2 linked regions of the Homo sapiens genome follow. The protein of the gene in region 1 purifies or fractionates together with the protein of each later gene. This does not show direct contact. Each region holds a gene or a part of one and is shown on either strand. Other genes may lie near its edges. The genes, in order: C1orf159 and LRP8.

Region 1 (3,812 bases):
AGACAGAAAAGACAACGGTGGTTGCCAGGGGCTGGGGGGCAGGGAGGAATGGGGAGTTAGTGTTTAATGGGAACAGTTTCCTTTCCTTTTTCCTTTCCTCTTTTCTCCTTTCTTTCCTTTCCTCCTTTTTAAAATTTCTTTCTTTCTTTTAGAGATGGGTTTGCTCTGTTGCCCAGGCTGGAGTGCAGTGGTGCAATCATAGCTCACCGCCATCTTGAACTCCTGGGCTCAAGCAACTCTCCCGCCTCAGCCTCCCAAGTAGCTAGGACTACATGCCTGCCACCATATCTGGCTAATTTTATTTTTATTTTTTGGTAAAAAGGGTGTCTTGCTGTGTTTCGCAGGCTGGTCTTGAACTCCTGGGCTCAAGCGCTCCTCTCTCCTGTCTTAATGCATGTGTACTAGATAAACATGCATGTAACGCAGGACCCATGTTCACTGAGAGGTGAGATTTCACATTTACATGTAAGACAATTAGGCCCTATATGGCCAAAGGTGAGGCGCGGCCCGGGAGTCACTCCAGTCACATCCTCCATAGACCAGCAGAACCAGTCCGTGGCCAGTGGTGTCTTATCAGGAGGAAGTTATGGAAAGTGACGCTGTAGTTATGGCCGTGAAATGGGGGGTCAGTTAGTGCCTGGCAGCGAGCCATCACTGTTTCCATACCGCTTGTCTCAGGCCAGTGCCTGCTTAACTGCTAGAGGAAAAGAAAACCCAAGCCTTATTCTTTAACTGTAAGGGTGTGTGACTTAACCCCGGCCTGGCACGGCCTTAGGTCCTGATTATAACTCGGCGTCTTATTGCCGCAGAGTCTGTCAGTCTCGTGATCTCCACTTTAACACTAATGTTGGTCAGTTGTGTCTAAACTGAAAAAGGGTGGCAGTATAACCAGGTGTGTCCAACCTCCCATCCTTTTATGGCCGGAAACTCAATTTTTAAGGTTTCTCTGGGGTCCCCTTGACCAAGAGGGAGCTCGTTCAGTCGGCGGGGGACTTAGGATTTTATTCTTAGTTTACAACATCAGTAATAAAATTAATAGGCAAATCAAAGAATGGGAGATAGTCACAGTACACGTACCAGACAAAAGCCCTGAATATGGAATATATAAAGGACTTTCACAATCTGGTCATCAAAAAAATGGGCAAAAGACATCCTCGGACACTCAGAAAACGTGTGCGAATGGCAACAGATGAGTGGACAGTGCTCAACACGGGTGAGCGTCAGGGAAATGCAAACTAAAGCCTCCACGACCAAACGGCACTCAGCCTCTCGGCTGTGGGGACACACAGAACCGCTGGGACTTCCACACCTGGGATGCAGCCTTCCCCCCGGGCACGTTCCCAAGAGAAACAACACACGCCCGCCAAACACGTGCACAAAAATAGGCCCAACTCTTCAGACAGCGGAAACCCACCCGGGCGCCCTCAGAGACGACGAGCACGCAACAGCGCATCCCACACCCACTCCTTGTGCAGCACCTCAGAGGAAGCTCAACAACAGTTCTCTGCGTGAGCCGTGGCAGACGCAAAACCGCCCGCACGTGTGACTCCTAACACTCAGAGTGTCGGTAAAATCACAGCAGCGCTCCTGTCTGGCGCGGCAGGCGGGCGCTGGAGCAGCCTGCGAGGCAATCTCCATGGATCACAGGCAGATTCTACATCACGACAGGAGTCTGGTGAATCCTTTGTCAAAACAATTGAACTGGACACAAGCTCTGTGTGTTTCACTGCATGTAAATTATGCCTTAGTAACTAAACACATGCATTTTCTATTTTGAAAATCTCATTGGAGCCAAAAAGCTAAATAATGGGATGAAAATTTCTACAAGGCAATGAAAAATTTAGTGAGAATTTAAATTGTGCTATACACTCTTTGACCACTCTTATTTTCCCTTAGAAGAACTGGTTTCAGGGCAGGTGTGGAGGCTCAGGCCTGCAATCCCATCATTTTGGGAGGCCAAGGTGGGAGGATCGCTTGAGCCCAGGAGTTCAAAACCAGCCCGGACAACAGAGTGAGATCTCATCTCTACCAAAAAAAAAAAAAAAAAAAAATAGCTGGGCTTGGTGACGTATACTTGTGGTCCCAGCTATTTGGGAGGCTGAAGTGAAAGAATCTCTTGAGCCTGGGAGGTCAAGGCTACAGTGAGCCATGATCGCACCACTGCACTCTACCTGGGCGACAGAGCCAGACCCCGTCTCAACAACAACAACAAAGAACTGGTTTCAAGAAAAAAATGATGCCTCAGGTCACTGTGATTTTAAATAAGTAACATCTTGCAAAACAACCCTGTAAAAGCAACCACCGGCTGGGGCAGTGGGTAGACCACACCCACGCTCACCGTAACTCCAGCCGCCCAGGCAGCAGTAACTGAAAAGGGGAGGCGGGAGGGTCCACTGGCGGGTTTCTCACGCTGCTGAACCTCGGTAAACACAGCCCCGAGGGCTGGCTGGAGCTTCCACTGCATCCGTGTAGCTAATGCTGGTCATCTTCGTAGCAAGCAAAGGAAGCCAACGTGAAACGTAGCTTTAAGGGCCCAATAAGAACTGTCTGGGGCCTCTCTACCTAAAGATCCCTCTCGTGCTTTGATAGAAAACAAATACCGCAAACCCCTTGATGGGGTGTAAAGGAGACATCCCCCTTTGTTGACATGCATGGTAGTCGCTGCCCACCTACCCGTGGGCTCAGCACACCGGAGTCGGGCGGTTGCCGTAGGTGGCTCAGCAGACGTGAGCAGGGCAGGATCGGGCCCATCCCCCCACCGGGAATGTCAGGCCACCATCAGGTGATGGTCAGGTGGCTGTTAACTGTCTAAAAGAACTGGTTGCACCCAGCGCCAGGGAAAGACAGGCTCCCAATAGCTAGAAAACACATGAAATCCGGTGATGGGCAGCTTCCCGATACGATCTCAGGAACTGGGCGAGTTGGCTCAAGCGTGTGCACTGAGAGGCAAAATGGCGGCGTGTAACCGTTCTATGACCTTCTAGGGACGTTTGACAGGTAACGGAAGAACGCCTCAGGTGAGCATGGGCACTACTCCAGTGAACACACGGCGCACGGTCCCTCCCTCCAGTGAACACAACGCACACGCTCCCTCCCTCCAGTGAACACACAGCGCATGCTCCCTCCTTCCAGTGAACACACGGCACATGCTACCTCCCTCCAGTGAACACACGGCACATGCTCCCTCCCTCCAGTGAACACAACGCGCACGCTCCCTCCCTCCAGTGAACACACAGCGCATGCTCCCTCCCCCCAGTGAATACACGGGGCATGCTCCCTCCCTCCAGTGAACACACCGGGCATGCTCCCTCCCTCCAGGGAACACATGGCGCATGCTCCCGCCCAAGTACTAGCAAGATGCTGCATGGGTGGACAGCCCACCCTGAAGAAGGATCAGGGGAGAAGGGGTGCAAGACCCCAGAAGCCTGCCAGGCTATAAAACCCCAAGTCAAAAGGTGAAACCGCACACCTGATCTCTCACATCGCCCGTCTGGCCCTCCTCCAAGGGTACTTCCTTTCCTTCCTGCTCTAAAGCTTCTTCAACAACTTTCACTCCTGCTCTAAAACTTGCCTTAGTCGGTGGGGTGCGGTGGCTCACGCCTGTGATCCCAGCACTTTGGGAGGCTGAGGTGGGTGGATCATCTGAGGTTGGGAGTTCGAGACCAGCCTGACCAAAATGCAGAAACCCCTTCTCTACTAAAATACAAAAAATTAGCCGGTTGTGGTGGCAGGCACCTGTAGTCCCAGCTACTCGGGAGGCTGAGGCAGGAGAATGACATGAACCCGGGAGGCAGAGCTTGCAGTGAGCCGAG
Region 2 (3,812 bases), about 52 Mb from region 1:
CCCAATTGTGAGTGCAGGAAGAAGGCAGAAGGGAAAGTCACCCAAGGAACCTGGGCCTCAGGGTGGAGCTCTGGAAGTGGAGCTAAGGAGTCCAGCTGCCCTGTTTCCCTGCCCAGAATCCAGCCCACCAAGCCAGCTATACTCCCCGCACTGTCACCAGGTAGTAAGGCACAGATCCCTGCCCTAGGCAAGGACTGGCCAGCTCCAGCCCTGAACCCAGCTCCAGGCACAGGAGTCTGCTCCAAGTGCTGGGGGCAGTGCAGGTGGAATAAGGACCAATGAGTGAAAGGAAAATGAAGTTCAGAGAGGGAGAGCCATTCACCCAAGGTCACACAGCAAGTTAGGGGCATAGATAGAAGAATTAGAACGCTGCGGAGGAGATGCCTTCTACCAATATCCTGAGAAGAATGAAGGAACAGTTTTGTACTCTTCTGCTTTTTTTTTTTTTTGGTGGGGGTGAAAGCCCTTGGGGCCAGAACACCGCTCGTTGTTCTCTCTCCTGGCTTTGCTTTCTGTGGCCTGGATATGGCTGCTTTGTCCCATGGGACCAGAATGAGGTGGCCCTGTGCTCAGAGAAGAGGGAAGTCCTTCAGCTGCCTGCCTCGCTGGAAAGGAGAGCCATGGGGCCATAGAGGGAGAGAGTTGTGAGATGGGAAAGATTCTCCCCTCTAGAGAGCAGAACGGCAATGATGAAAATGCACACACTCAGCAGCTCCTTTCCTAAGAACTTATCTTAAAGAAAGGACCAAGCAAATGCACAAGGATGGAGTTCAAGGATGTCCATCCTAGCATTGCACAGAGCAGGGAAAAACATGGAAGCAACCAAACACACATCTATCAACGGGAGAAAATGTCATTAAATTATGGAAGATCCACACAATACAATACTATCTAGCCCTTTAAAACAAGGATGTGAACTACTGTTATTGCCATAGAAAGCCATATGTGAAAACAACCGGCATAACATGGCCTCATTTTTGTTAAAAAAAAAAAATACATATGTTCATGCCCAAGAGCTCACATGCAGAGAAAAATCTCTAGAAGGCTATGCTGCTTACATAGTGGTACTAGCAAGGGTGAGAACTACCTTCGTCCAAGCTGGAGTGCAGTGGTGTGATCTCGGCTCACTGCAACCTTCGTTTCCTGTTCTTTATTAACTATGTTTTTCATTACAAGTGTAAAGTTACTTTCAGCTAACCAGAAGTTACTTACCCTGGAAAACTAAATAAGTAAAATCAGTTGAAGTGAGTTTTAGCTCCAGAACTACCAATAACTGGGTGAGTCTCTTATCCTCTCTGAGCCTCGTTTTCCTCATCAAGGAATGGGGATCATAATGAACTCCTGCACCGCCTGCCTCCCAGGAGCACACCTGTGAGGCACCAACTGGAAAAGCCATCCAAGGATTACGGCAGGTTGAGAGGGCTGGAAACTAAGATGCCCTCCAGAGTGGCTGGGATGAAGTCCCCTGTGGTACCTCAAGGCCAGTGACCAGGGGAGGATGGGGGCCAAATGACCACTCCCGTGGACTCCTAGACAGACTGGCAGACAGCTTTGGGGTGTCTGTCCTGCCACATGCCACGTTCCAAGGGGCAGGCGTGTAGAGGCCATGAGGGGTCATGGGAACTGTGTGCACCACATGAGCCCCACAGCCCTGGGCTCGCTGGGTGACTCTCAGTTTCCCAAGGACACTCCATGGCGCCTGAGAGCATGCCGCATTCTATGCCCCCAAAGCAGCTAGGCCCGGCTCTCCCATTGTGGGTACCTAGGCTGGGCCCCACCAGAGACAAAGAGGTCAGAGCGGGTACAGTCAGTGAGGAACTCGGTCAAGACTGAGCAGGATTCCCCTGAAGGCCCTCAGCCCCTCCCCTGCCACTCCGGCTGCGGGGTGATTACTGGAGTCTATGACATATGGCAGCTTGTGAGAGGAGCTGGGGTGAGCAGGGCTGATAATTAAAACCGCTGCCGGGGGACCCAGCTCATGCTGGAGGGCGCCCAAGGGGCTGGGCTGCTCAGGAGGGAGTTGGCACACCCACTAGCAGGTGCTGGCAAAGAGGGACGCCTGGAAAGGAAGAGAGGCCCCAGCACAGCCTGCAAGCCACACTTTACTGTCATCGTGACTGGGATGTGTGAATGCATATCTCCTTTCAGCTGCCTCAGACCTGCAGCCAGACAGGCATGGCCCAGTCCTGCCACTGACCAGCGGGGCCACCCGGGGCAAGTGACTTCATCTCTCAGAGTCTTGGTTCTCTCCTCTGCGAAATGCAGTCATGATACCTCAAGGCACCGGCTGAAGGAGGTCTTGCATGAGAAAGCCCCTCACTAGCTCGCTCCCTAACTCTTCTTAGTGTTAACGTGAGTATTTTAGATGACTTCTTGGCAATCCAGAAGTGGGCAAGCAGGGCCCAGTGGGGCCAGTGGTGCACCTGAGGTCCCCAGTCAGGAGCCCAAAGCCCTTCGGTACTGCAAAAGGCTTGTGTCCACCCCTCAGCCTGAGAGCACCCTGTTCCCGGATCCAGCAGGGAACAAAGAGGGTGGGGGTGGGAGGGGGAAGCACATACAGTTCTGACTCCAGTCCCACCCAGAATTGAGGACACCTGAGTTCTGAGAATGGTGCCCTACTGACGATGGAGCCAATTCGACCATCAGGGCCTTAGTTTCACCTTTCTAAGCCTGGGTGCGAGGAGGCAGCCAGGCCCCGTGTTACTACAGAGAGTAAAAGAGATGACCCTGGGCTGACACTCCCTGAGGTCATGTGCATCACTATCATCAGGTTCTCAGTTTCCCCTTCCATACAGTCAGAAGAAGAATCAGCATCTAACAGGCAAAGGCTGAGAGAAGCCTATGAAAACTGGAATGTCATCCCCATGGGAGCTGGAAAAGGCCTATGTGAGGGCTCTGCGGGGTCTCCAGAGAACAGGGTCCCTCCCCAGTCCCACTCCCCAGGTCAGAAACTGGTAGCTCAGGGAGGCACTGCTGAGTCCTGCAGCTGCTCCCTACTTCCTCCCACACCCTCCAAGCACCAGCCTCTGACCCCACCAGGGTAGACAGCGCTCAGCGGGGAACGGCTTAAGAAGAGTCTGGGCTCCAGACCAGACAGACCTGGGTCAGCTCCTGGCTCCACCACTTAATGGTCATGACATTGGCCAAGTTCCGTCTCCTTTCTGAGCCTCAGTTTCATCATCTTCGAAATGAGAACGAAAAACTAGCCCTCCCAGGGTTGTGAGTAGTGAAGTTAAAGGATGTGAATTGTCCAACGTGGTCCCAGGCATGGGATATAGGCAGCCAATAGCTGTTATTAGCTACCCCTTGAGGAAACGACTTTGGAATTCCTACTGCCCAGCACAAGGCTGGCGGAGTGCACAATGTTGAGAAGGATCTGCAACTGCGGGAAGAAAAAGGACACGTTGTGGGAGCTCAGGGCCTGAGGGGCTGGAGGACAGGGGTCTAGAAAGGCATCTCTGGAGGAAGTGGCATCCCTGCCAGGCCTTCAGAGCCTGGGTGATCTGGATGTGTGGGCATTTGGGGGGCAGGTGCTACCAACGTTACTTAGGCCTGGGGCTGCAAGGCCTGGCTCCACAACCCTAAGGACACAACCCCACACCCTCCCACAGACCCCAGTGCTGGCCCCCTGGGACAGCATGGGCCTGGGAGTAGACCACTAACCTGGTGCTGGGAGAGCATGCATGCATTTACTTCCTTCAAGGGCGTGCCTGTTCCATCCGCCCTCTGGGCTCTCGCTCCTCACTGCCCCCTGGGGGTCTCTCTCTCTCTGGCTTCACCTGCTACCAGCATTTCCCCAAGGAGGAAAGTTG

What was found.
Region 2: the proteins of C1orf159 (region 1) and LRP8 fractionate together in Homo sapiens (co-fractionation; one large-scale study listed by BioGRID). This does not show direct contact.

The regions. Positions count from the first base shown.
Region 1 is NC_000001.11:1,109,336-1,113,147, forward strand, and holds part of C1orf159 (uncharacterized protein C1orf159 isoform 2 precursor), read right to left. Parts: intron 1-3,812.
Region 2 is NC_000001.11:53,317,806-53,321,617, forward strand, and holds part of LRP8 (low-density lipoprotein receptor-related protein 8 isoform 1 precursor), read right to left. Parts: intron 1-3,812. UniProt on the Homo sapiens protein: Cell surface receptor for Reelin (RELN) and apolipoprotein E (apoE)-containing ligands. LRP8 participates in transmitting the extracellular Reelin signal to intracellular signaling processes, by binding to DAB1 on its cytoplasmic tail.